Linked DNA regions of Homo sapiens. The protein of the gene in region 1 purifies or fractionates together with the protein of each later gene. This does not show direct contact. Each region holds a gene or a part of one and is shown on either strand. Other genes may lie near its edges.

What was found. Proteins that work in one complex are often made in the same cells at the same time.
Region 2: the proteins of FH (region 1) and OXCT1 fractionate together in Homo sapiens (co-fractionation; 2 studies listed by BioGRID). This does not show direct contact.
Region 3: the proteins of FH (region 1) and ATIC fractionate together in Homo sapiens (co-fractionation; 2 studies listed by BioGRID). This does not show direct contact.

Annotation. Positions count from the first base shown.
Region 1 is NC_000001.11:241,515,987-241,525,196, reverse strand, and holds the start of FH (fumarate hydratase, mitochondrial), read left to right. Parts: upstream 1-5,441; 5' UTR 5,442-5,474; coding exon 5,475-5,606; intron 5,607-7,880; coding exon 7,881-8,015; intron 8,016-9,210. UniProt on the Homo sapiens protein: Catalyzes the reversible stereospecific interconversion of fumarate to L-malate. Experiments in other species have demonstrated that specific isoforms of this protein act in defined pathways and favor one direction over the other.
Region 2 is NC_000005.10:41,838,853-41,847,160, reverse strand, and holds part of OXCT1 (succinyl-CoA:3-ketoacid coenzyme A transferase 1, mitochondrial isoform 3 precursor), read left to right. Parts: intron 1-3,503; exon of another isoform or gene 3,504-3,580; coding exon of another isoform or gene 3,581-3,586; intron 3,587-4,379; coding exon 4,380-4,486; intron 4,487-6,649; coding exon 6,650-6,710; intron 6,711-8,308. UniProt on the Homo sapiens protein: Key enzyme for ketone body catabolism.
Region 3 is NC_000002.12:215,328,324-215,336,631, forward strand, and holds part of ATIC (bifunctional purine biosynthesis protein ATIC), read left to right. Parts: intron 1-4,058; coding exon 4,059-4,184; intron 4,185-5,026; coding exon 5,027-5,134; intron 5,135-6,595; coding exon 6,596-6,681; intron 6,682-7,711; coding exon 7,712-7,801; intron 7,802-8,308. UniProt on the Homo sapiens protein: Bifunctional enzyme that catalyzes the last two steps of purine biosynthesis.

The DNA.
Region 1 (9,210 bases):
CATTGTATAGCTGGCTCTCATTGCTTAGTTCTCAGCTCAGATACAATATCCTTAGCTTGATCACCTTATCTAAAAGAAGCAACCTCTCAATCATTCTCTAAACATCTTGTTTCCTTTATTGTGTTCACTATTCTAGGAAACTACCAGGCTTATTAGTTTACTTGTTTTATTAAACAAATATATATTGGTGAAAGTAAAAAGAGAGGAAAGTGAATGGATTCAAGATATAAGTTTGTGTTAAATGACCAGGATCTGCTGGTAAATTTGGCATAGTGTACGCATATGTTTGGGAAATGGAGGCAGAGTTCAGGAATCAAGGAAGACTTGCAGGTTTCTAGCTTGACTAACTGGTAGTAGTTTACTGAGCATGAAAGACTAGGGCGGGGTGCCAACTAAGATTTATCATTTAGGTATATTAAGTTTGAGATGTGAGTATTGAGTTAGATAGAGATACTAAGCACACAGTTGGAAATGTAAATCTGGAGCTTGGAGAAACCTAGGTTGGAAAAATAAGTTTGGCACCATCAGTATATCAACATAAAGATGGTACTGAAAATCATGGGAATGAAGATTTCACCTATGGAAAGATAACTGATTGAGAAGATAGTTAAGAAAGGGAATAGCATGCATAATTCAATAACATTTACATAAAAATTTAAACTGCACAAAACAACTGTACAAATTTTACAAGAATACATCTAAACAAAAGGATACAAAATAAACACATTATAATAGTTTTCTAGGGGTTTGAAAGGAGAAAGGGTATAGGAGAATAAGAAGCTAAGTGAAGCTAAGCTATGAGGACTCAAAGTCATAAGAACCATATAATGGACTTTGGGGACTCAGGGGGAAGGATGGGAGGGGGTGAAGGATGAAAAACTTAAACATTGGGTACAGTGTACACTGCTTAGGTGATGGGTGCAACAAAATCTCAGAAATCACCACTAAAAAACTTATCCATGTAGTCAAAAGCCACCTGTTTCCCCAAAACTATTGAAATCAAAAAAGAGAGTAAAAATATGAATAGAAAATAGGAATAGAAATGAAATATTTAAATAAAATAAGAATGGATCTTATACTCCATAACATGTCATAAGGTCAGTGTATTTACTCAACACTCTGTACCTGAGGTCCCACTATATTTTTAAAAATGAATTAAAGAGGAAAGACTATTTAGGAGTGAGCCCTGAGGCCCTTCCCTATTTATAAGTGAAAATCTGTCAAAGAACAGTGTGAAGGAATAGGTAGTGAAACAAAGTGGAAGTTTGGGAGAGGGAAATACGGAGACTTTGATATTTCAAAGAGCGAGAAAGAGGTATTTCCAAGGAGAAGGGGTGTCAATTGTGTCAATGCTGCTGCAAACATAGGAAACTAATTGTTCATTGTATTTGCACCTTGCAGGTCACTGGTGACCCTGGAAAGGGCAGTATGAATGGAGTGACATGTACTGAAGGCAGATTGTAATAGGATGAAGAAAGAATGAGAAGTGAAGTGAAGATGGTGATCAAATATGTCCTGGAAATGAGGAGGGAGTTGAAGTGGGATGCAAAGTCAGAGCAGCTTTTGTTTGTTTTTAACATGAGAGCTGAGACAGCAAAGTTACAGTATTAACTTATTCTATGGGTCAATTAAGAGAAATAACCAGACAAAGTAAGAAAAAGAGTGGGTAGTGTCTCTGAGGGGTAATGGAATCCAGCACATTGAGGAATTGAAGTTTTTCTGGAGAATGGAGAGAGAGGTTGGTTAACTTTCTGAGTTGGTAATTTTAGTGTTTTGCAAAGTTTCTGTACGTGCACTTAGTCTTAGGAATAAAAAAGTTCTGCAAGACATCCAACCTAAACAGTCATCACCCTTGCTACCTCTCCGCCACTTATCCTTGCACAGAGGCATCCCTTCCAGTTCCTGGGTATATACTTCCACATCTCTAAAGATTACCTCTTGGTTTTTATTTCTGTCTGTCCAGTTTATGGTTTTAGGTATTAGATCATGACTTCTCACTACTGAAGACGAAGATTAATGTTTTTTTTTTCACCGTGTCTGAATCTCTCCAAACTTCTACATTCTTTCCATCTCCCCATCCTTTCAGTATAGTTACATCAACATTTCAGTTAGATCAATATTCAACGTTTGATTTATTATAACTATGGCCATTCAAATTTGATAATGATTATTTTCCCTTTTCTGCAAAATACAACTATCTTTATTTGTCAGTTTAATAACTGTCATGCTTTTTCCCTTTGGTTACTTTTCTAAGACTTATAAATGTAACCCTCAAACTCTCCCCCAATCAGCTAAATTCCTTCTCAGTATATTCAAGGCATTAGCAATTTTATCTTTTTGAGTAAATCTATTCCAGAGGCTGTGACCTGCTTCCATCTGAGATGGTTGCTCTCTAAGGTAAGTGCACAGCTGTCATAGCCTCCTCCAGGCAATATGCCACATCTGTCTCTTGTGTCGAAGACCCTATTTTCTAAGTCCATAATTTCCTCTTCCTTTGTTTACTCCTAGTTACGGTGGAGCACTTACTTGAGGCGTTTTCTTGAAAAGTGTAGATAAGAAGTAAATTTTTTGACATCTTGATCATGTGAAAACATTTTAATTCTCTTCACACACTTGATTTCTCTGGGTATAGAATATAAAGTTGGAAATAATTTTCCGTTAACAATTTGAAGACATCATTCAACTGCTGTCTGGCTTCCGATATTGTTGTTGTGAAGTCTAAGGATTTCTAATCCTTTGCTTATTTATTTTTCTCTCTGAAAGATTCCAGTCTCTTCTCTTTGCCCTTGGTATTCTAACATTTCTTGTTGACATAACTCATTCTGGCTAGTTCATATCTGCTAGTTCTACAATATATTTTTCTGAATTTATTTTTTTAAGGTTTATTCCATTTTTTCCTAATGTTTCCCCTACATTATTCACATGTTGGACATACTGAACTGTTTCTCTAATTTTATTTACTTCTTTTATTTTCCTTCTCTTTGAATATTTGCTCTACTTTCTGGGAGACTTTTATGGGTGTATCTTGCAAATTTTCTGTTAAGCTTCCTCTAGGAAACCCACTGGTAATCTCCCAGGCTGGGAGGTATCCTAAATTAGAATTTGCAAAAGTCTTTAGTTTGAATAAGGAGAACATTTTGATTGATACAATTTGAACCTCGCAATCAATTTTGTCAGCCAGGTGTTGAGATTTAGAACACAGGCAAGAGAAAACCATTGCACTTTTCCCTTGTCCCTCAGCAGGACACCAATCACATCCCCTACCTTAAACAGAAAGCAAAGTAAAACAAACAAGAACAAACCAGGCAAGCATCAACAAGAAGAAAGCAGGTCAATATTATTATCAGACAAGTCCAAAGTTAAAAAAAAAAAACCCAAACTCTAAGCAAAGTAAAAACATTATTTCAAATAGATAACATAAGTCATTCTAAAATGAAGATATCTAGCCTTTATTAAAGGCTTTATGTACGTTTTATTACGAATTAATAAAAATAAATTAGCTAAGTTAATATTTCCTAAATTTTAGTCATTTATATAGCATCTTCATATTATACTGAATATTTTACTTCAAATAAAATGAATAATTAAAAATGGAACTTCATATTACTACTGCAGATAGAAAATCAGTTTCACTAATAAATCGAAGTAAAACACACAAATAAATATGTGGATGTTCCTGGGCATCAATTTTTCTCTTCTATGTACAGGAATAATAATAGGACCTATCTCATAGGGTTGTTTTTGAGTGTTCCAAGAATTAATACATATAAAGTGCTTTGAAAAATTCTAGAACATAATATGTGTCATAGGTAATTTTTAAAAGGGATTAAAATAACCTATTTATAAAAAGGCTATTAATTTGGGTTTTGAAAAGTTAAACTGTATGGTAGAAATAAGAGACATGCTCGAAACAAAAATGAAACAAAAAATAAAATAAAATGAGAAATATACAGCAGGCAAATAATAGCCAATATGAAATTGGTAGAGAAATATCAATATTAAAAAAAGTTTAAAAGGACAAGCAACAATAACAATAAAGAGGGGCACCACACAATGAAGAAAGAGATGATCTATGAAGAAATGATAAACATATGTTCATTAAATAATTTTGTGTAATAGCAAAGAAAAATGTTCTTTATTAAGAAACTGGATAAATAAAATATTTCATATTCATGTGATCCAATATGATTAATTTTAAAAGATCATGGCTATATCTTAAAAGCATAGAGTTCAATTATGCAACAGTAAAACTTTAAAGTAAAATATTAAAACCATTGTTTGTATATTAGTGTATGAAGCAAAAAATACACAGAACTGAAAGGATGCATCAAAATAATGATATACACAATAATGATACCTGCTGGGAAGGAGGAGAACAAAAACAAAACGTCATTCCATTATTAGCAATGTTTTAAAGAATTTGCATTCAGTTTTCTAGTGTGTTTTGATTGTAGTTCAACTATTACAATCTCATTTGAATTTTTATATTTTAAATATGTGTCAAATTTATAAGTCACAAAATAACATAATGTTACCAAAAGGTTTGGCAAGTTTGTAAGTTTGACTCATAAATTTGGCTTTGCAGGTTCTGGACTTTTGATTTTAAGAACATCCGATCGCTCTCTCTTTACTGTCATCTGGTTCCAAGCAATAGAAAAGAGAAAAGATAAAACTGTGGTTCAGATGCAATTTTATATCAATTCCTGCTTTTCTGTAATCAACTATTATATTAAAACAATATGCCTTTAATTTGAAAATGTATAAATTAGCTATGCAAAAAACTGGGAGAACGATATACAAATAATAAAAATTCCGAGGTTCCCTATAATTGTGTACGTCTTCCACAATACATTAAAAAAAAAAAAAGAGTTCTGAGGGTATAGGCTAAGAAGAGAAAGGAAACGGTAGCGATCTCAAAATGATAAGTTAAAAGAAATAAGTAAGTAGCTTATTTTTCAGTTGTGGGATTATGAATAATTACTATTTCATTATCTACACTTTGCTGCACTTCCCAAAATTTCTACACAGAAGATACAATCTGGAAGAAATGAAGAAAGATTTCAGTAGTAAGAACGTGTAATGAGTGATTACATGATAAATAAAACAATAAATATTTCTTTCTAGGATATTTCACCAACCAAACACGACCTGATTCACCAACTAATACTCCCGCCTTCTAACAGCCACACGTAAAAATCAGACCGGCTCCAAGAATAACCTGAGCCTCCTTTCCCATAATTCCCTTCTTTCTAGTTTCCCATGAATCCGAAGGCCTTACACCCCACACTACTACTAGAAAGTTAACCCGCCCCCTCATTCTTTACTGGTCATTCACGATTGGTCCTGCCCCACCTGTCGGTGTGAGGCTGTTGATTGGATAAGAGCGGAGGCCGGTGGGCGGAACGGTTTCTGACAACCGGCGTGGAGGCGTGGCCACAGCCGCCCAGAAATTCTACCCAAGCTCCCTCAGCACCATGTACCGAGCACTTCGGCTCCTCGCGCGCTCGCGTCCCCTCGTGCGGGCTCCAGCCGCAGCCTTAGCTTCGGCTCCCGGCTTGGGTGGCGCGGCCGTGCCCTCGTTTTGGCCTCCGAACGCGGCTCGAATGGTGAGCGCAGGCCGCCATCCCCCGGCCTCCCCGCAGTGACCTTCAGCCCTCCTGCCTGCCGGCCTGGGCGCCCGCGACTTGGCGGGAGAGATTCCCCGGGCGTCCGGGCCGCGCCAGACTCTGGGCTTAGCGCCCGTGCCGGCGTGGCGGGCCTCCCGGCCTCGGGACGCCTCTTCCGGCGCAGGGATGGAGCCGCAGCCCGGGAGAGCGCTTGGGGAGGGACGGGGGCTGTCAGAGAGGGTCCTACTGGGCCCGCTCCCGGCGCCTCCTCGGAGCCGTCCGTGGCGGGCCGAGGCCGGGGCGTTTTGAGGTAACTTCGCTGCTGCTGGCGCGCAGGCCCCCAGCCCCGGGGCGCTGCCCTCAAGGACAGTGCCGGCGTGGGCGGAGGGTGCTGGGAGAGGGGCAGCTCCCGCACCGTCCTGCCCCATAGCTGGGCCTTGCTGGCCGGACACTGGCCGCCTGTGCATCTAGTGGTTTCTGAACTGTGGTTTGTTTCGCCAAGGGGCACTGCACTGCTTTCAGGCCCTCCAGGTGGGGTAGAAGGTTCTTCGAAGATTTTACTTCCTTTGAAATTGCATGCTCAGTTTGTTAGGCTGACTATGGTTTCCCCCGTAATTGTTGTAAAACTCTTCAATTCCGAATACCGCGGGCATAGTGTTCTGAAGCATGTTTGAGCAGATTGGCTAGGAGCTGAATCGGTACTTTTTATTCAGAAAGCCAGCTAAGAACTTAAAGATCCAAGTTCAGGTTATGACATGCTTACGTAAGTCATTTTGCTCTTTAGAGTGTCATCTTTAGGAATGCAGGCTTTTAAAAAGCTTTAAATACATATGTATATTGTTAGGAAACGTTTGAGAAATGATAGTTGAAGAGTTACAGTTCTGCACTGGTGTAGCATGAGGTTTGCAATCTAAGAGATGTGATTTCAAATCCGTATGCAAAGTTGAAATACTTACAGCTACTCAGCAAAACTGCACATGTGAAAATACCATGTAGCGAGTGCTCATTAAATAAGTGCCCCATCTAGGGTATTTCAAAGGGCCAGTACTTTTTCTGGACTCTAAACTTCAAGATAATTTGATTGGGTCACTATACCTACGATATACAACTATACTACAGAATCAGAGATGTTTTGTATTCCTCGAACTCCCTGCTCGAATAATTTTAGGGCATTTTAAAACCTTTACATATTTTTAAATTTATTTATTGTTTATTTAGTGTTTTGTAAAGGGAAGCAGACTGGAGAACTTCTGAATCTATCCTGTTGATGCAAATGTCAAAAAATAGCAGCACTACTTTGCTCTTAGAATTGTAATGTTAGCTAAAATCAGATGGAGGTAGTTTTTGTTTTTTCTAGTTCTGGTACTTTTTGCCCTCTAACCATTCTCAGGTCCAAAATCTCTGTTGGTTTTGTTAAAAGTTCTTCCTGTTGCTAATGTTGAGAATTTCACATAACCCTTGATGCCCTAAGGTACCTTTTATTTAAAAGAACACATACAAATTCATTCAATAGAAAGATACTGTTTATTGAGTGCCTTCCACTTACCAGGCCCTGTAAATAAGACAGTCCCTATGGGGATAGGGTTTTACAGGCAGTGTTTTATTCTTGTCTTTAGTGGAGATTAAATAAGCAAAGCAGTTAAATAAGCAAATAAATCACACATGAATAATTAGTGTGATCATTGATTATTAAAAATGCATTAAAAAGTGCATTGAGAATGAGAATATTTAACAGGCAGACCAACTGTGATACTGACTTGGTAGCATGATGGCATATATATAGTGTTTATATATGTAAATAATGTTTATACATTTCTTATATAAATGAATATACATATGTAATATATGTGAATAATGTTTATATATAAATAATGTTTATAAATTTCAAATAATCATTCTTAGACCGTTTTCAAAAGTTCCCAGTAAAATAAGCATTAAACTAAGTACATTGAATTGGCCAAATCTTGACCAGTAATAAGCATACTCTTGAAATGGAAAAGATTACTATTTGTATTTCAAAGTCTTTATGTTTATCACCAGCATAGTATATTAGTTCTACAGTCTGTCTTTAAAGCCTGAATTAATAAGTTTGTGTGACAAAGAGCTCTCAAGGAAAGACCTGAAAGTGAGGAAGAGAATGAGAATCCAAATAGTATTTTTTTGTCTTTGTGATACTTATTCAGGTTTCTTTCTCTTTAACAGCTGATAAGATGCGATTACTTTTGATCCTGGGTTTCTTTTCAACTTGTAATAGTGTTGTATTCTTGTCTTTAGGCAAGCCAAAATTCCTTCCGGATAGAATATGATACCTTTGGTGAACTAAAGGTGCCAAATGATAAGTATTATGGCGCCCAGACCGTGAGATCTACGATGAACTTTAAGATTGGAGGTGTGACAGAACGCATGCCAGTAAGTGGCATTTGTGGAAATGTTGGCTATTTTGGATGAAGTAGGCTGTATTCATGAGTCACTTTACTTTATAAATATTTTTCAGAGTTAAAATGTAAAGTTATTAGAAAAGATGGCTTCGTGAGTAATAAGAGGTTCTCTTTCACTAAAATGTTAAAGAACTTTTTGAAGTTTTAGCATGCTATTATTTTGAGCCATCGCTTTGAATATTTTGGATTTTTTAAAATTTAAGGCCGGGCACGGTGGCTTATGCCTGTAATCCCAGAACTTTGGGAGGCCAAGGTGGGCAGATCACGAGGTCAAGAGATCGAGACCATCCTGGCCAACATGGTGAAACTCTGTCTCTACTAAAAATACAAAAATTAGCCGGGCACGGTGGCGCGCGCCTGTAGTCCCAATTACTCTGGAGGCTGAGACAGGAGAATTGCTTGAACCCGGGAGGCGGAGGTTGCAGTGAGCTGAGATCGCACCACTGCACTCCAGCCTGGCGACAGAGTGAGACTCCGTCTCAAAAAAAAAAAAATTAATTTAATTTTAAGTTCCGGGATACACATGCAGGATATGCAGTTTTGTTGCATAGGTAAATGTGTGCCATGGTGGTTTGCTGCACCTCTCAACCCATCACCTAGATATTAAAACCCGGCATTAGCTATTTTTTCTGCTGCTCCCCCTCCGCCCACAGGCCCCTGTGTGCTTTGTTCCCCTCCTTGTGTCCATATGTTCTCATTGTTCAGCTCCCACTTACAAGTGAGAACATGCGGGTTTGGTTTTCTGTTCCTCTGTTAGTATGCTGAGGGTCACAGCTTCTAGCTCCATCCATATCTCTGCAAAGGACATGATCTCATTCTTTTTTATGGTTGCATAATATTCCATGGTGGATATATACAACTTTTTCTTTATCCTTTATTGATGGACATTTGGGTTGATTTCATGTCTTTGCTATTGTGAATAGTTATTTTGGATTTTTATTTGGCAGAACTAAATGATTGTCTTTTCACTCTTGCTGGGTATTTACAGATTTTTACTAGGGTTCTACAGTTTGTAAATATTTTTATTTCAATACTCATTCTTTTTTCCCCCACTAATTTAAAACTGAGATTTTTTAAAATTACACTTTGTATTTTGGTTTCAGTTTCCTAAAAAGTGTATAGTACACAAACACATCAAAGTATTACTCTTAACCATGTCTGACATA
Region 2 (8,308 bases), on another chromosome or scaffold:
TGCGTAGAGGTGTTTGTAGTATTCTCTGATGGTAGTTTGTATTTCTGTGGGATCGGTGGTGATATCCCCTTTATCATTTTTTATTGCGTCTATTTGATTCTTCTCTCTTTTTTTCTTTATTAGTCTTGCTAGCGGTCTATCAGTTTTGTTGATCCTTTCAAAAACAAATTTACAAGAAAAAAACAACCCCATCAAAAAGTGGGCGAAGGACATGAACAGACACTTCTCAAAAGAAGACATTTATGCAGCCAAAAAACATGAAAAAATGCTCACCATCACTGGCCATCAGAGAAATGCAAATCAAAACCACAATGAGATACCATCTCACACCAGTTAGAATGGCAATCATTAAAAAGTCAGGAAACAACAAGTGCTGGAGAGGATGTGGAGAAATAGGAATACTTTTACACTGTTGGTGGGACTATAAACTAGTTCAACCCTTGTGGAAGTCAGTGTGGCGATTCCTCAGGGATCTAGAACTAGAAATACCATTTGACCCAGCCATCCCATTACTGGGTATCTACCCAAAGGACTATAAATCATGCTGCTTTAAAGACACATGCACACGTATGTTTATTGCAGCATTATTCACAATAGCAAAGACTTGGAACCAACCCAAATGTCCAACAATGATAGACTGGATTAAGAAAATGTGGCACATATACACCATGGAATACTATGCAGCCATAAAAAATGATGAGTTCATGTCCTTTGTAGGGACATGGATGAAATTGGAAATCATCATTCTCAGTAAACTATCGCAAGAACAAAAAACCAAACACTGCATATTCTCACTCATAGGTGGGAATTGAACAATGAGAACACATGGACACAGGAAGGGGAACATCACACTCTGGGGACTGTTGTGGGGTGGGGGGAGGGGGGAGGGATAGCATTGGGAGATATCCCTAATGCTAGATGACGAGTTAGTGGGTGCAGCACACCAGCATGGCACATGTATACATATGTAACTAACCTGCACATTGTGCACATGTACCCTAAAACTTAAAGTATAATAATAATAAATAAATAAATACATACATACATACATAAATAAATAAAGAGAAGACTTCTGGATTGGAAGGCAGAAAATGAGTGCAATTAGGGAGGGAATGCAGGGGGATTTAAACTGAATATTAATGTTCTATTTCTTAAGCTGGTGTTATAAAAATGTATAAGTACTGCATATATTTTTAAAATGCTACATAAGCATATTTTGTACATTTTTATATGATAAATTTTACATTAAAATATTTTAAGATAAAAAATGTGTTTTTTATGTTTGATCTTTTTCCTTTACTGTCTAAATAAGTTTAAAAGGCTTCTTGACAAAGTAAAAGACAGGAGCCTAATTGTTAAAATGAACTGTAGTAGTATCTCATAAAGTTCCCGGAAAACTTGGGATAAATACTTTGATAGCTTGCTAGAAGTTGAAAAATTAATTCACCTCGTGAAAATATGAGACTAAAATATTTCTTAGGTTCATTTCTGCCTGGAATCAGGTGCCTCAAACTCGTAGTTTTTTAATTTTGTCTGAATTCCCTAGGAATATGACAGATAATTTATTTCTTAATTCTTAGTACTTTTTTTTTTTACTTAAAGCAGGAAAAAGTGAGTTCATTTCTAAATTAGTGTTATTTATTGAGGTCCTACTCTTTGCCAAACCCTGGTCTAAGCACTGTGGTAAAATGATCTAGATCAAGTCCTCCTGCTAGTGGAGGAACTGACAATGAATGAATAAATGCATAATGTCTATAGTGGAAGTACTGTGAAGACAAATCAAGTAGATTAACAGCAAAGAGAATTAATTATCACTGGCCAGGCAGCTGATATTCCAGACTGGTGGCCAGGGAGAGCTTCTTTGGGGAGGTGACACTTGGTAGAGACCTGAATAAGGTAGGAGAACGAGGCAAGTGGAGATAAGAGGGTTTGTGCTCTGTTCAGAAGGAAGAGTAAGTACAAGGTGCTGAGGCAGCTACAGGCTTGCCGTGTTTGGGGAACAGGAGGGTGGTGAGGCTGGAACAGCACATGAGGCAGAGAGTGATAAGGATGGAGATTGAAGAGAGGCAGGAGTCAAATTCATGCAAAGTTTGAATTTTACGGAACGCAGTGGGAAGCCTATGGAGTTTTGAATAAGGGTGAGAGTGATGTAATTTGAGTTGTCTTTTGTAACTATCACTGTGGCTGCTGGGGTGGTGGTTCTTTTTTTTTTTTTTTTGCTAGGAAGCCAAGAGCAGAAGCAGCGAGAGAGGGTTTAGGAGGCTGTTGTGTTAATTTAGGAGGGAATGGAAGGTGGCTAGACCAAGGTGGTAACAGTGGAGTTTGAGAGAAGTGGTTGAAATTGGTGTTATGTTCATGGTAGAGCCAACAGGATTTACTGGTAGATAGGTAAGGGGTGTAAGAGGAGTCAAGCATACTGTGTAAGATGAATGAAGCACAGGCCTTATCAAAGAGCTCTGTTTGGAACATGGTGCATTGGAGACGTTCATTAGACTCCAAGAGGAGGTGCTTAGTGAACGTCATATCAGGGGAGAGTCTAGAGCCAGGATAGAGACTTTGGAGGCATCAGCATATAGTATTTAAATCTGTATACTAGATGAGTGTCTAGGGGCTGAGTGCAGAGCACCTCGTTGACATTTAGAAATTGGGAAGAGAAGGAGCAGCAAAGAGAAATGGGAAAGAGTGATTAGTAAGTAAAGAAGAAACCCAGGGGCATCTGGCAATTTGAAAGAGAAGGGAAATTTTAAAAAGAAGGGAATGATCAACTGAGTGTGAAGAGGTTGGTAATACAGGGCCTGGAATTGAATCATTGGATTTGCAAAAACAGAGGTCATTGACAACTTTAAGAATTATTCCTTTTTGGAATAGAGGGGATGAAAATCTCATTAGATTCAAGAAAGAACCAAAAAGTGAGGAAGTGGTGACTACGAAATGTAGAATTCTTTCAAGTGAGTATAATAGCTAGTTTGACAAAACCAACTCCTTCCCCATTTTTAAATTTCAGTAAAACTAACACTCAGCAACAGCTGGTATGTAGACACATCAGAAAATTATGTAACTAGAATATAAAAGAAGCCTATTTATTGACTTTGCCTTGCATTTGCATATATTTACCCCAGTTTTCTAGATCTGTATGTAAAACACTCAACTATCATTGTTGGTATTTACAGTGATTTTTGAAATACATAAGCCGTTCCAAAATAACTTTGTATATTGATATGTGGCTCAGAAATATCTTTCATATAATTTATCTTAGTTCCTATAGTAAGATCCTCATTCATCAGTTATTCCCTAAGTGCATTAATCTTTTTTCTAGCAGGCAACTTGGTTAATGTCTTTAAAGTAGCCTTTATTTAAGAAAGGTTTTGTTTCAAACCATAGTTGAAATAAATGTACCAAAATTTTCTATTTTCTATAGCAGCTTTTTGTAAAACGCACTTAGTCTGTTTTTCCACTAGGGGGTGCGGTAGGGATGAGAATGGAGTTCTACATTCACATGGCTCCATTTTGTGCAGTGATGGAGTGTGGCAATGGATGCTTGTTTTAATTCCCGGAAATAAACCGTCAAGAATAAAAGAACATGATGGCAAGACAGTTTTGCTTTATGTTCTTCCCTCCAAAATTGGTAGTATAATTAAAAGGCAATAAACATAAATAAAAATCAATAGCATTCCCTAGATCAGTAATGTCAGAAGAGTAGATAGGAGCAAATGTAACATTCACAGTAGCAAGAGAAACCACTAAGTACCTATAAATAAACCTAAGAAAAAAAATAAAGCTTTTATGGAGAAAATAATAAAACTATTGAAGGAGGTCGAAGAAAACCTCAGTAAATGGAGACATATACTATGCTCATGGGTGGGAAGATAGGGCTTGTTGGTTTTCTCCAAATTTACTGATTCTGTGAATCCCATTTAAAATCTCAACAGGTGATATAGGTTATTGAGGATAGCTGAATGATAGATTTTTGTAACTATTTTATGTAGGAAAACAATACATAGACCATTTTATGCAAACTGTTTTTTCAGGGGAGAGGGAAAGAAGGACTATTTTTCACATTCAATATACAACCTGTACATACAAATAGTAAAATGAAAATAGTCTATCCCTCAGGCCATAGAACTTTCAGTTCCTCAAATGCACAAATTTTCTTTTGTCACTGGACCTTTGCTTGTCTGTTTCCTTAGCTCCCCTTAGACCACTTTGACTAAGTCCTGCTTGCCTAACACTGCTTATCTTTGAAGTCTCTGGGATGCTTTTCCCTCTGAGAAATTTTCCCTCAGTAGGCTTGTATCCTTATTATCTACCTCTATCAGAGTGCCTCTATCACAATCAAGACCTATGCAAATACCTGATGATGCCTTCTCCCTCTTCTGCAGGTGAGGGAGTTCAATGGTCAGCACTTTATTTTGGAGGAAGCAATTACAGGGGATTTTGCTTTGGTGAAAGCCTGGAAGGCGGACCGAGCAGGAAACGTGATTTTCAGGTATTGTGATAGTTTTAAAAACACTCGTGCATATCAGCAACTCTAAAAATGGACATCAGAGTGAATTTGGAATTTAAAAATGTATTTTCGTAATGGCCCAAAATCATACATGCCCATGTGTATTGCACATATATAGGTGTGTGCAGGGCTGCTGGTATGTCCACTTGTGGGAGTCTGTTTAGACTGGTCGATATCTATGTTGCACTGCTTGTTAAATATTTGGATCTATATGCCCTTTTATATAGGCACATGCAGTTGTTTTTCTCCTTGTGTATTTTAGTTGCCAAGACCAGTTACATGCTTAGAAAATGTGACATCATACAATTTTATTTAATTGATATTGTAATTTACATGTATTGTCTTAAAATGTCAAAGCTAATTTGATACTCTGGAAAGATACTGCTAATAATCATTGGGGTCAGTCCTTCAGTCCTTTTGGTGTCTTCTAGGAAATGCTTACAAAGGTTCTATCTGAAAAATTGATTAACCTTTATAATACTGAATTTTCAATCCTCTCAGCCACAGACTTTATAGATTTTAAAATCTTTTGGTTATTCTAAGCATACTAAGTATTTATATCTTGGATTTATAGATTTATATAGTTGTTTTTTGAGGAATATGAAACCTTTGAGTGTACACTTAAGAGTTTTCCAAACTGATCTTGAAGACTTTACCTATCAGATTACAGAAATCATTGTTTTTGCTTATTTATCATTTGCTGCTTTCGATTAACAATTTTTAAATCTTTAGCAAATGCAGCTTTGGTGCAATTACAGTTAAGTTCTCAGTGATACTCTCATATCACTTTTTATTTCTGAAGGACTTATGTGATATTAATGCTCTTTGATTTCTTTAATTTAGCCAGTTTTTTAAAGTACAACTAATTTTGGCAATAACAGGAGTAATTTTACATCATCTTTACCTTATTTGACACGTTTGTGTAATATTTACACGTTTAGTTGCTTTTTAAAAAAGATTAACAAAATTGTATACTACCAAACAGAAAGGAATTATTGAAAATATTCCCATGTTTATTCTGCGCTGCAGTGCCTGGCTCTGGTATTTGAAGGCTGCACAAGGGCTATTCTGGGCACTGACTTTATGCTGGTGGTTAATGAGTTCGGGTGTGAAATGAAAGCTTGCATCACCAATGGTCAAGTGACCTTAGGATTAACTTCATATTTAGTGGGACAGCTGGAACAGAAGTCTGTCTAGGTTATTCAAGTGGGGGACTTGGGACTCCTTTGCCTCTGACCATTCTGCCCTTGGAGCTTTTGATGCCTGGATGTCTGGTGGGATCTAACCCAGCAACTTGTGAAAGTTCACGAGGGCTCCTTTCTCAAGGATGCTCCTATTCCTGTACTCATTCTTCAATCTGAGCAAAAGAAATATTGGTGGCTCAAAAGAGCTAGTAAAACATAGCTGTGACTTACTTCCTTTTACCAAAGAAATTCTGCCATCAACGTATATTCCCAGAGACAAAAAATATGTTTTAATTTTTACCATTAGGGGAACTGTATTGAGGAACATCAGAGTGCAAAACCATCGGCAAAATTGGCACCTGCTAGAAATTTTTACACCTCGGGGTCTGATGTGGGTGTTATACTTCCAAAAACTTCATCAGAAAATGATTCTCCAGAATGATCTTTATAGTTGACTCACAAATTATCAATGAATGTTTCATTTAGTTTCAGCAATAGGCTTCTCTTCAATAGAGAATGTAATTACTGTACCTTCTCATGTGAAGCATTTGCTACTTTTCCTTTCTTAATATTTTAATGAAAGCAAGTGGTTGAATGAAATATTTAACTAATAGGGACAAAGCATACTTGTTAAAAGATTAAGGGAAATTAACTTCAAATAAGATAGATTTATTAATATTCCTTTTTTTGTTGTAGCTATATGTTGAATGTGAAAAATAGTTCCTCTTTCCCTCAATCCTGTTCAAAACAAAACTATATACATTGAATAAAGTAGTTATGGTTTTTAAAATTTATGAGATATTTATGAAACTTTATTAATGGAAAATATGATACACTCTTTTTGGAAAGATTCTTAGATTCTTAGTTCATAGAAATTCTAATCTATAAAACCTTAAAGGTGACAGAGATGCTTATTTTTCGTCTTTTCCCCCCCACTTTCTTATCTCCTCCACCCCTGTAGGAAAAGTGCAAGGAATTTCAACTTGCCAATGTGCAAAGCTGCAGAAACCACAGTGGTAGAGGTAAGAGGTTATTTTTGAATTCTTGGTGTTAATTATTTAACTTGATGTTAAGTATTAATTCAAGAAAAAGTACCACAGTTCATTTGTTTTATGGATAACAATGACAGCTTTTTTTTTTGTTTTGGAAATGGATCCATTCTATCTAAATATATAATAGTTAAAATTTTGCTGTAACTTCAGCTTTCTGGTTAGATAGGGTCTCACTAGAATGCTCTCTTTGGGAATCAAGCAATGGGACCAGCTTATAAAAGTCTTTTGATCCTTAAATGAAATAGATCTCCTTGAATGAAATCCCAAGATGAATTTATGTATGTGGAATCCCTGGAAAACAGTAAATGTGTCAGAAGAAGTTCATGATCTTACTGTGATAGATTTTGTGATTTCTTTAAGGGAAGAGCATTGCACATATAACTACTTTGATGTGGTTCAATTCAGAGCAAATTCAGGCACTGACTGTCCTTTGGGTATCTCAGTGTTTGGAAGGGGCTTGGATAATTCTGCAGCCTTTCCAGGCTTAAGGACCCAGGGCAGAAACAGGGGCTTATACCAAAACCGTGCCATTTTGGTTGTAACATATTGAACCTCAAAGAAGACTTCAAATGGTTCTTAACTTGAGGCTTTGAGGATCAACTTGGAACCCAATTTTCGTGGGAGTTTGAGGTAGTTTTTCCTTGGGAGGGCTTTATAGGACCCCTATTGGGATCTGGAATTGAAAATACATAGGTTCCTGATTGATTTTTCTCATGATGGCAGGTGTTGTATGTGGTATCTTTTGATTCATTTTTACAAGGCCAAGATAATGTTTCATGAAGTCAGTACAGTGTATTTTGAAACAATCAAATGTTAGAGTTTTGTTCCTTTCTTGGAAAATGAAGTGTGCTATTTTTAAATTGCTGAAGTATATGTTACTTTCAACCGAGGCATGGTGGTTTCTTTTGCAATGGCTTTACATTTTCTGAATTTAAAATGGATAGTGTGGCTTACACTTTCTGTGTAACCTGTCTTTAATTTATTCATCCATCTTAATGACCTGTCCGTGGCACACAACTATAGCATTACTGAAAAAAGGCCTACAGCATAGCTTAAAATAATCAATAGTTTTACACCCTGTTGACTTCCTGTATTTCTGTAAAACTGTCAGAAACCAGTATTTCTTTCCAGAGTACAGAGGGGCGTTATGCATTATCCTGGGTGAAGTTCTCTTTAAAATTTTTCCTGTTATAATCTGGTTCTTTTCAGTTCATCTCATTTCTTACAAGAGCAGAAAATAACCTTGTGTTGAAGAATCATTGCAGGTATTAGGAAAGAGAGGCTCTCTTTTGGCCTAAGGAGAGAAAATCCTTTAACTAAGCCTGCAAATGTAATAAAGGCTTCCCTCCTGTGTCCCGGAACAGACATCTCTGATGGATCACAGAATGCTTTCCTGGTAGGCCGAGACACACATTAGGGTCTCTTTCAATACAGTAATGTGCGCAACCACTCCTAATTCACTACACTCTCCAGTATGGTAGCCACTAGCCACATGTGACTTATAAAATTAAAATTATGGCACAGTGGCTCAGGCCTAATTTATCGCAGCACTTTGGAAGGCTGAGGCA
Region 3 (8,308 bases), on another chromosome or scaffold:
ATGATGTCAGACCCTACTTAAAGCCATTCCTTGGCTTTTCTTAAGCACTTTGCCCTGCCCCACAAACCCTGTGCTGCCTGCCTGCCTCCTATCTGCCCCCTCAGCAGCTCTCCCTGCGCCTGCTGCTAGCCCCTCCGCCCTGTGCCTCCAAGTGGGCCCAGCTCTTTCCACTCCAGCGCCTCTGGCTCCTTGTCCCCTTCACCCAGAATTCTTCCCTCTGCCCTTCACCGTCCTGGTTTCTTGTTATTCAGGCCTCACCTCCTCAGAGAAGCCTTCCTTGACCGCTTAGACCAAAGTAGCAGCCCATCATGCTTTCATCCCATCACCCTGTTTTGCTGCATGTGTTTCTATTCAATCTGTTCAAATTGTCTTCCCCCATTAGGATGGCAGCTTCCTTTTTTTTTTTTTTTTGAGATAGAGTTTCACTCTTTTCGCCCAGGCTGGAGTGCAGTGGTGCGATCTTGGCTCGCTGCAAACTCCACCTCCCGGGTTGAAGTGATTCTCCTGCCTCGGCCTCTCAAGTAGCTGGGACTACAGGCGCCTGCCACCACACCTGGCTAATTTTGTATTTTTAGTAGAGATAGGGTTTCACCACGTTGGCCAGGCTGGTTTTGAACTCCTGACCTCAGGTGATCTGCCTGCCTCGGCCTCCCAAAGTGCTGGGATTACAGGCATGAGCCACAGCGCCCAGCCAGGATGTCAGCTTTTGAGAGCAGAAGCTGCATCTGTTTTTGTTTGTCGCTGAATCCCCAGGGCTTAGAAGACTGCTTGGCACATTCCCTAAATGTTTACTGAATGAATAATTAGCAACCTGACATTTTGCACAAATTTTTCCTTGTAGGACTTCTTGAAACTGATTTGTCTGCTGTTATATCTGACCTATTTCCTGCTTATAGTTTATATTCTCCATTAAGATTCTGAGACAAAAAAATCCCCATGTACTGTCAGTTCTTATACTTTTCATTTTCCAAAGCATTTTCATTGGACTATATAAAAGCCTTCATTGTTCCTTAGACTGTGTGTGCGTTTCTTTTGAAGTTTAAAGTATTATTTGTGGTAAACATGGCAGAGGCGGCCCTGGACACGTAAATAAGCGTTTCTTGTGCGAGATTCCCAGGATTTCTCCCCAACATGGGCTTATTTCCACAATAGAAAAGGCACTTTGCCTTTTCATGTGGTTTGAGTATTTGGCAGTGATGTTATTACAGAGTGTATGGTTGCGATTGTATCTAAAACAAAATTGAAGCAAGAACAAAGATGGGGTTGTGTGAGTGTGTGTATGTGTCTGAGATTTTAATGACTGGTTTGCTTATGATTGGAAAGAAGAAAATTCCTATTTATTTCAGCTATTTACTAGATTAAGCAACTTTCAGCATTTCTCTGGCACTTTCTATTTCAGTTATTAATGTCTTTGAAAATTTGATATTTGAAGGGGAACCGGATACTCTTTTTTTTTTGAGGCAGAGTCTTGCTCTGTCGCCCAGGCTGGAGTGCAGTGGCATGATCTCGGCTCACCACAACCTCCGCCTCCCAGGTTCAAGTGATCTCCTGCCTCAGCCTCCTGAGTAGTTGGGATTACAGGCATGTACCACCAGGCCCAGCTAATTTTTGTATTTTTAGTAAAGACAGAGTTTCACCATATTGGCCAGACCAGTCTGAAACTCCCAACCTCAGGTGATCCACCCACCTTGGCCTCCCAAAGTGTTGGGGATTACAGGCATGAGCCACCGCACCCATCCAGATACGCTTAACTATGAGATGTTTCAGAAACCAAAAGTTTTCTCCCACTTATCAACCTTAGCCTAAACCATCTATGAGGAGTGGGAGGGAGATGGGGGAGTTGTACATATGGTGTTTTGTTTTATTATGCCTGTTGTATGCCTTAGGGGATATTTTACTTCTATTGTTTACTATTTATTGCCTAGTTTGTTTTCTTCTGTGCCTCTCGCATAAATTTCATGAGGACAGTGATTTTATTTGACTTGATTTTTGGTTGGGGGAATTATTTTTTCAAGTTCTTTTTAAAACGGGCTTTATTTTTTTAGAGTAGTTACAGGTTTACAGAAAAAATACACGGTGATTATAGGGAATTTCCATATACCCCGCTTCCCCGCAGTTTCTCCTGTTAACATCATGCATTAGTGTGGTGTATTTGTTACAACTGATGAACCGATTTTGATTCATTATTAACCAAGGTTCATAGTTTAACATTCATTCTTTGTGTTGTACATTCTGTGTATTTGGAAAAATGCACAGTGGCATGTCTCCCCCATTACAGTATCATGCAGAATAGTTTCAATGCCCTAAAACTCCCTTGTGCTCCTCCGCCTCATCCCTCCTTTCCCTTCTCCCCAACCCTTTGCAACCACTGTTATCTTTTTCTCTTTTCTTTTTTTTTTTTTTGGAATGGAGTCTTGCTATGTTGTCTGAGCTGGTTTTGATATCCTGGGACTCAAGCAGTCCTTCCGCCTTGGCCTCTCAAGTAGCTGGGATTACAGGCATGCACCACCATGCCCAGCTGTTTTTACTGACTCTGTACCCATTTCCAGAATGTCAGATAGTTGGGATCATACAGTATGGAGCCCTTTTAGGCACTTTCAGTTAACAACATGCATTAAGTTTCTTCCACATCTTTTTGTGGGTTGGTAGCTTATTTCTTAATGCTGAATAATATTTCACTGTGTATGAATGTACCACAGTTTATCCATGGACATATTGAAGGGCATCAAAACTTCAAGGACAGTTTTTGGTAGTTTATGAACAAAATTGCTATAATCATTTGTGTGCAAGTTTTCAACTCATTTTGATAAATACCTAATATTTTCTTTTATTGTATACTATTTATTGCCTATTTTTTATTTGCCTCCCCAGTAAGCTCCATAAGGACAGTGACTTTTTTTTAAGAGGGTTGCAGGGACGGTTTTTTTCACTGATGTATCCTGAATACCTAGAACAGTGCTTAACATCGTAGTAGGCAACTCAGTAAATATTTGGCAAGGTCTTTAAAAACTATCTTAACCCATGAAGGACATGAAATTACACATTTTTGTTTTTTGGGTTTTTTTTTTTTTTTTTTGAGACGGAGTCTCGCTCTTGTTGGCCAGGCTGGAGTGCAGTGGCGCGGTTTCGGCTCACTACAACCTCCACCTTCCAGGTTCAAGCGATTCTCCTGCCTCAGCCTCCCTAGTAGCTGGGATTACATGCGCCCGCCACCACACCCAGCTAATTTTTGTGTTTTTAGTAGAGACGGGGGTTTCACCATGTTGACCAGGCTGATCTCGAACTCCTGACCTTGTGATCCACCCACCTCGGCCTCCCAAAGTGCTGGGGTCATGGGGGTGAGCCATTGTACCCGGCTCATTTTTGTTTTTAATTAGTGCTGGCCCACCATTTCTTTCTGTGTGCTGAACTTCTTATGTTTATTCACAAGAGATACTAGCTCCTAAAAAAATCTGCCAGTGTTGAGAAACTAGGTAATGGAAAACTCTGAAGTTGCAGTCTCCTTTTAACTACAGTTCTGCTTTAGGCAGAGTCTGTTGAGTTTGCCATCAAAGAAGAAAGAAAAAACACATTATTTCTTCTCTTCTTCCACCCACAGCTGTTGCTTTAGCTTGTAATATAATTTCTTACATCGATAGGGTTTATAACTTTAATTTTGTACTGTCTCTGTGATTACCTCAATTGTTTAATCTTAGTTCTGTATTTACATGAATTCCTGACTGATCACTAGTCTTGTCATAGTTTCTCCCATCCCTAAATCTCTTATTGTGGATTTATTTCTAGACTGGCTGGTTCTGGTCCTCCAGTCGTGTGTGTGTGTGTGTGTGTGTGTGTGTGTGTGTGTGTGTGTGTTCATGTACATGTGCATTTTTTTTAAAGATGGGCTCAGGCTCAGTTGCTTTGTTCTTTATCATCAAGATTTTATGTTTGTGTGTATCTGTTTGGCTCTTAATTATACTTAAAACATTTGTTTAGTCATGTTATTTTTTTGAGAAGTGTGCATACATCTGACCTTACTGATCCTGCTTAGTAATGTGCATGTATATTTTTACATTTAGTTCTAAATGGAGCCCCTGGATTTATAAACTTGTGCGATGCTTTGAACGCCTGGCAGCTGGTGAAGGAACTCAAGGAGGCTTTAGGTATTCCAGCCGCTGCCTCTTTCAAACATGTCAGCCCAGCAGGTAAAGCTCTGTGCTCTGGAAAGCTCCAGAATTGTTCGAAAGGCATTTCTTCTTAAATTTTTTTGAATATTAACAAGTTCTAATGTGAATATAGACATGCTATGAAATCTGAAAGTCATCTGTTGATAACAGTATCAATGTAATAATATAAAATCTGATACACACACACACACAGAATTGTGTAATATTGTCAGGAAAATGAGGCAGGAATTTGTTTGTGGGGTGGAACCATAAAAGTTTAGAAAATAAAAGTGAAATGTCCTAATGCAATAGACTAAGTCTTGTGCCACATCTTTGAAAATGTAATGGAGTAAACATAAAGAAGTTCTTCTTTGGACTCTTTATCTGAAACTTCTTATAGTCGTTGTATGAGATACTTTGCTTCTGTGTTTAAATCATGAACTCCGCAATTGAGTTGTCTGTACACCACATCTTGCTGACAGTCCTCCAGCACATGATTTGTTCTCAGGTGTTTATTGGGTGTTAAAGTGATGTGAGTGGGGAAGAAATAAATGATGTGTGATATCAAAGTGATATCAAGCAGAACAGAGAGAAAGAGTGAGTCAGTAATGAAGTAAACGAGCTTCACCTACACGCTGGGTACTGTCAGGCTTCAGTGGCTCTGTGGTTTTGGAGGGCAGAGAGGAGATTTCCCTCACACTGCTCCCACAACCATATTTTTAGTGTATAATTATCTGGCTAAATAGATTTCTGTTTAATTTAGCACAGGCACTAGAAAATGTGCTGCGTAGACTGGGTGTTAAGAAAACTGTCTTGATTTAGGAGTTGACAGGTAGTAACTTTAGCTTTCTTTGTTTATGATTTTACTATTTTCTAACCAGGTGCTGCTGTTGGAATTCCACTCAGTGAAGATGAGGCCAAAGTCTGCATGGTTTATGATCTCTATAAAACCCTCACACCCATCTCAGCGGCATATGCAAGAGCAAGAGGTCAGACTCATAGGGCTTTTTGATTTGGGGGAGAAAGAAAAAGCAATATTTTATCCTAAATAGAATAAAGAGGATAGAATAAAGAAAAAATATATAGATATTCTGTATAATATATAGATGAAATTAAGGACTTCTATCTCTATGTAAATATACAGTTATTCTATATAATATAGTTTGATTAAAGTAAAATACCCTTTGTTTCATTATAGGATTTCCTATTTAATTTGTTTTATTAATATTTGAGATTGATTCTGTGAGTACCTCAAAATACATTTCTTTATAAAAGTGTATGTTAGTATTTTAGGCCGGGCGCAATGTCTCACGCCTGTAGTACCAGGACTTTGGGAGGCTGAGGCGGGCAGATCACGAGGTCAGGAGATCGAGACCATCCTGGCTAACACGGTGAAACCCCGTCTCTACTAAAAATACAAAAAATTAGCTGGGCGTGGTGGGGGGTACCTGTAGTCCCAGGTACTCAGGAGGCTGAGGCAGGAGAATGGTGTGAACCCGGCAGGTGGAACTTGCAGTGAGCCAAGATAGCGCCAGTGCACTCCAGCCTGGGTGACAGAGCGATACTCCGTCTCAAAAAAAAAAAAGTATTTGTTAGTATTTTAGTGTAATAAATGGAAACACAATTGGAATTTGGTCAATGTAATTTTGCTAATTTAGGCTATTGAATGCATTTGTTATTGTTTAATATGTGACCAAAATTGAAATTACAAAAAGCTATTCTTTTTTTTTTTTTTTTTTTTTTGAGACAGCTTCTTGCTCTGTTGCCCAGGCTGGAGTGCAGTGGCGCCATCTCAGCTCACTGCAACCTCCACCTCCTGGGTTCAAGCGATTCTCCTGCCTCAGCGTCCTGAGTAGCTGGGATTACAGGTGCGTGCCACCACACCTGGCTAATTTTTTTGTATTTTTAGTAGAGACATGGTTTCACCATGTTGGCCAGGCTGGTCTTGAGCTCCTGACCTCAAGTGATTCACCTGCCTCAGCCTCCCAGAGGGCTGGGATTACAGGCGTGATTTATGGCTCTTCTAACTTTACTACATTTGGTTAGAGTCATGTTTTATCAGAGACATTTACTTGTTGAATTTAATAACCCATGAATATCCCTTTAGTATTTCTGAAAGTTCTTGAGAAACTATTACCATAGTTTATCATCTACAGCAGTGGTCAGCAACTTCAGCTGAATCCAGCCTGCCACCCTGTTTTTGTGAATATAGTATATATAAATTGGTCCTTCACAGAAAAAGTTTTCTGAGTGTCACTCTAGAGGGTAAAATTAAAGAATACTTTCTTACTGGTTACTTCAGTTAAATGACTTATTGATCTGTTAAAATCTTATGTAAACAGTAAGATTAGCTTTAGAGTAATGAATTTTATATGACAGTGGAGAATTTTATTACTTTTTCTGTATCAGGATACTTTGTGATAAATACCTCATTTTAATTTTATTTACAGGGGCTGATAGGATGTCTTCATTTGGTGATTTTGTTGCATTGTCCGATGTTTGTGATGTACCAACTGCAAAAATTATTTCCAGAGAAGTTAGTGGACATTCATGTATCTTAATCTGTGTGTTGAATAAAGCTTTATTTGTTCATAATGTTAATTGAAACCATAACCTATAATATTTATATTTATAATATCTTTTAATTAGCTAAGTTTATCATTTAATGTTCATATTTTAAATAGAACATTAATCTTAAATTGTTAATTTTGAAATGTAGTGAATTATTGTTTCAGATGGATATTTGGCTGTTATGATGTTTTTTACTTATATATTTATTTTAAATTCTTTGTTGTCTTCATGCCAAAGTTACTGTTTCTGAAGAGCAGAAGTTGTAATTTTAGGTGGTGATGCGATATAATCCATCTTACTGCATAGTGGGTAAAAAACAGAAACTACATTAATAAACTTACCCCATCAGTTGAATACCAAACAGGTATTCCAGACAGGTGGGGGTACTGTTGGTAGTAGGAAGACAGGAAGAAAAGAGAAAAAGATTAAATAGCTCAGAAAGGGGAAAAAAATAAGCAGAGGTGAAGGCTGAAGGAGCATGTGGCTTGGCACTATTTTGTTGCTTTAGGATTCTTTCCATGGCCACTGCCATCCCTGGGTTACAGGTTACAGGAGGGCTGTGACATTTGTATCTTTCGTCATGTCAAATCTCTGATTTAATCTGGTCTTGCTGTTAAGGAAAACGCCTTGCCGGAAGAGGTCATTTAACCATGTACTAGGAGAGTCAGGACTAGAATGTGCTCTTGCTCATTCAAAACACTCCCTGAAGAAATATTTCCTCCTGAGGTACATGTGTTAAGAGCAAATCAGTCATATTTTCTTAGTTTAAACTGAAACGAACAAAAACTTGGAGAGGACAGAAAGTTAGGATCTGCTATACAGAAAGCTGTATTCTAATAGATTTCTCTTTTCAAGTATAGCGTTAGCATTGTTTGTTGGAGGCAGAAACCAGAATATGCTGCCACATTATTTAAGACTGATAATTGCTGCTAGATTTTTTTAAGAGGTGTTCTCTGATTTTTAAAAATAGAAATTAAAATTTAATATTTTTGCAGGTATCTGATGGTATAATTGCCCCAGGATATGAAGAAGAAGCCTTGACAATACTTTCCAAAAAGAAAAATGGAAACTATTGTGTCCTTCAGGTGAGTGCAATTCATGTTTGAAGCGGTAATTTGCTCTTTTATTCTGTGTCTCTTTCTCCCTTGTTTACTCTTTCCTTTATACTCATACCCTTCTAGTTTATCCTTATTATAGTTTATTTTCCCCAATCCTGCATTTAAAAAAATACTATTAACTTGGGGTTTTGAGATGAGAGTAGCTTTCTTACCCTCAATTTTAACTTTTTGCTGGTTGTGATGGCTCATGCCTATAATTTCAGCCACTTGAGAGGCTGATGTGGGAGGATGGCTTGAGGCCAAGAATTGGAGGCTGTATTGTGGTACTATGATGCCTGTGAATAACGACTGCACTCCAGCCTTGGCAGTGTAGTAAGACCATGTCTCTAAAATACTAATAATAGTAACAATATTTAATGGAAAGTCTCTCCATCCTTCTGTTACCTTTTGAAAAGATAACTATTTTAAATTTCTTGCTTATCTTTCCTGAAATAGTCTATGTATTCAGCAAATATTTGCATGTGCATTTCTTTT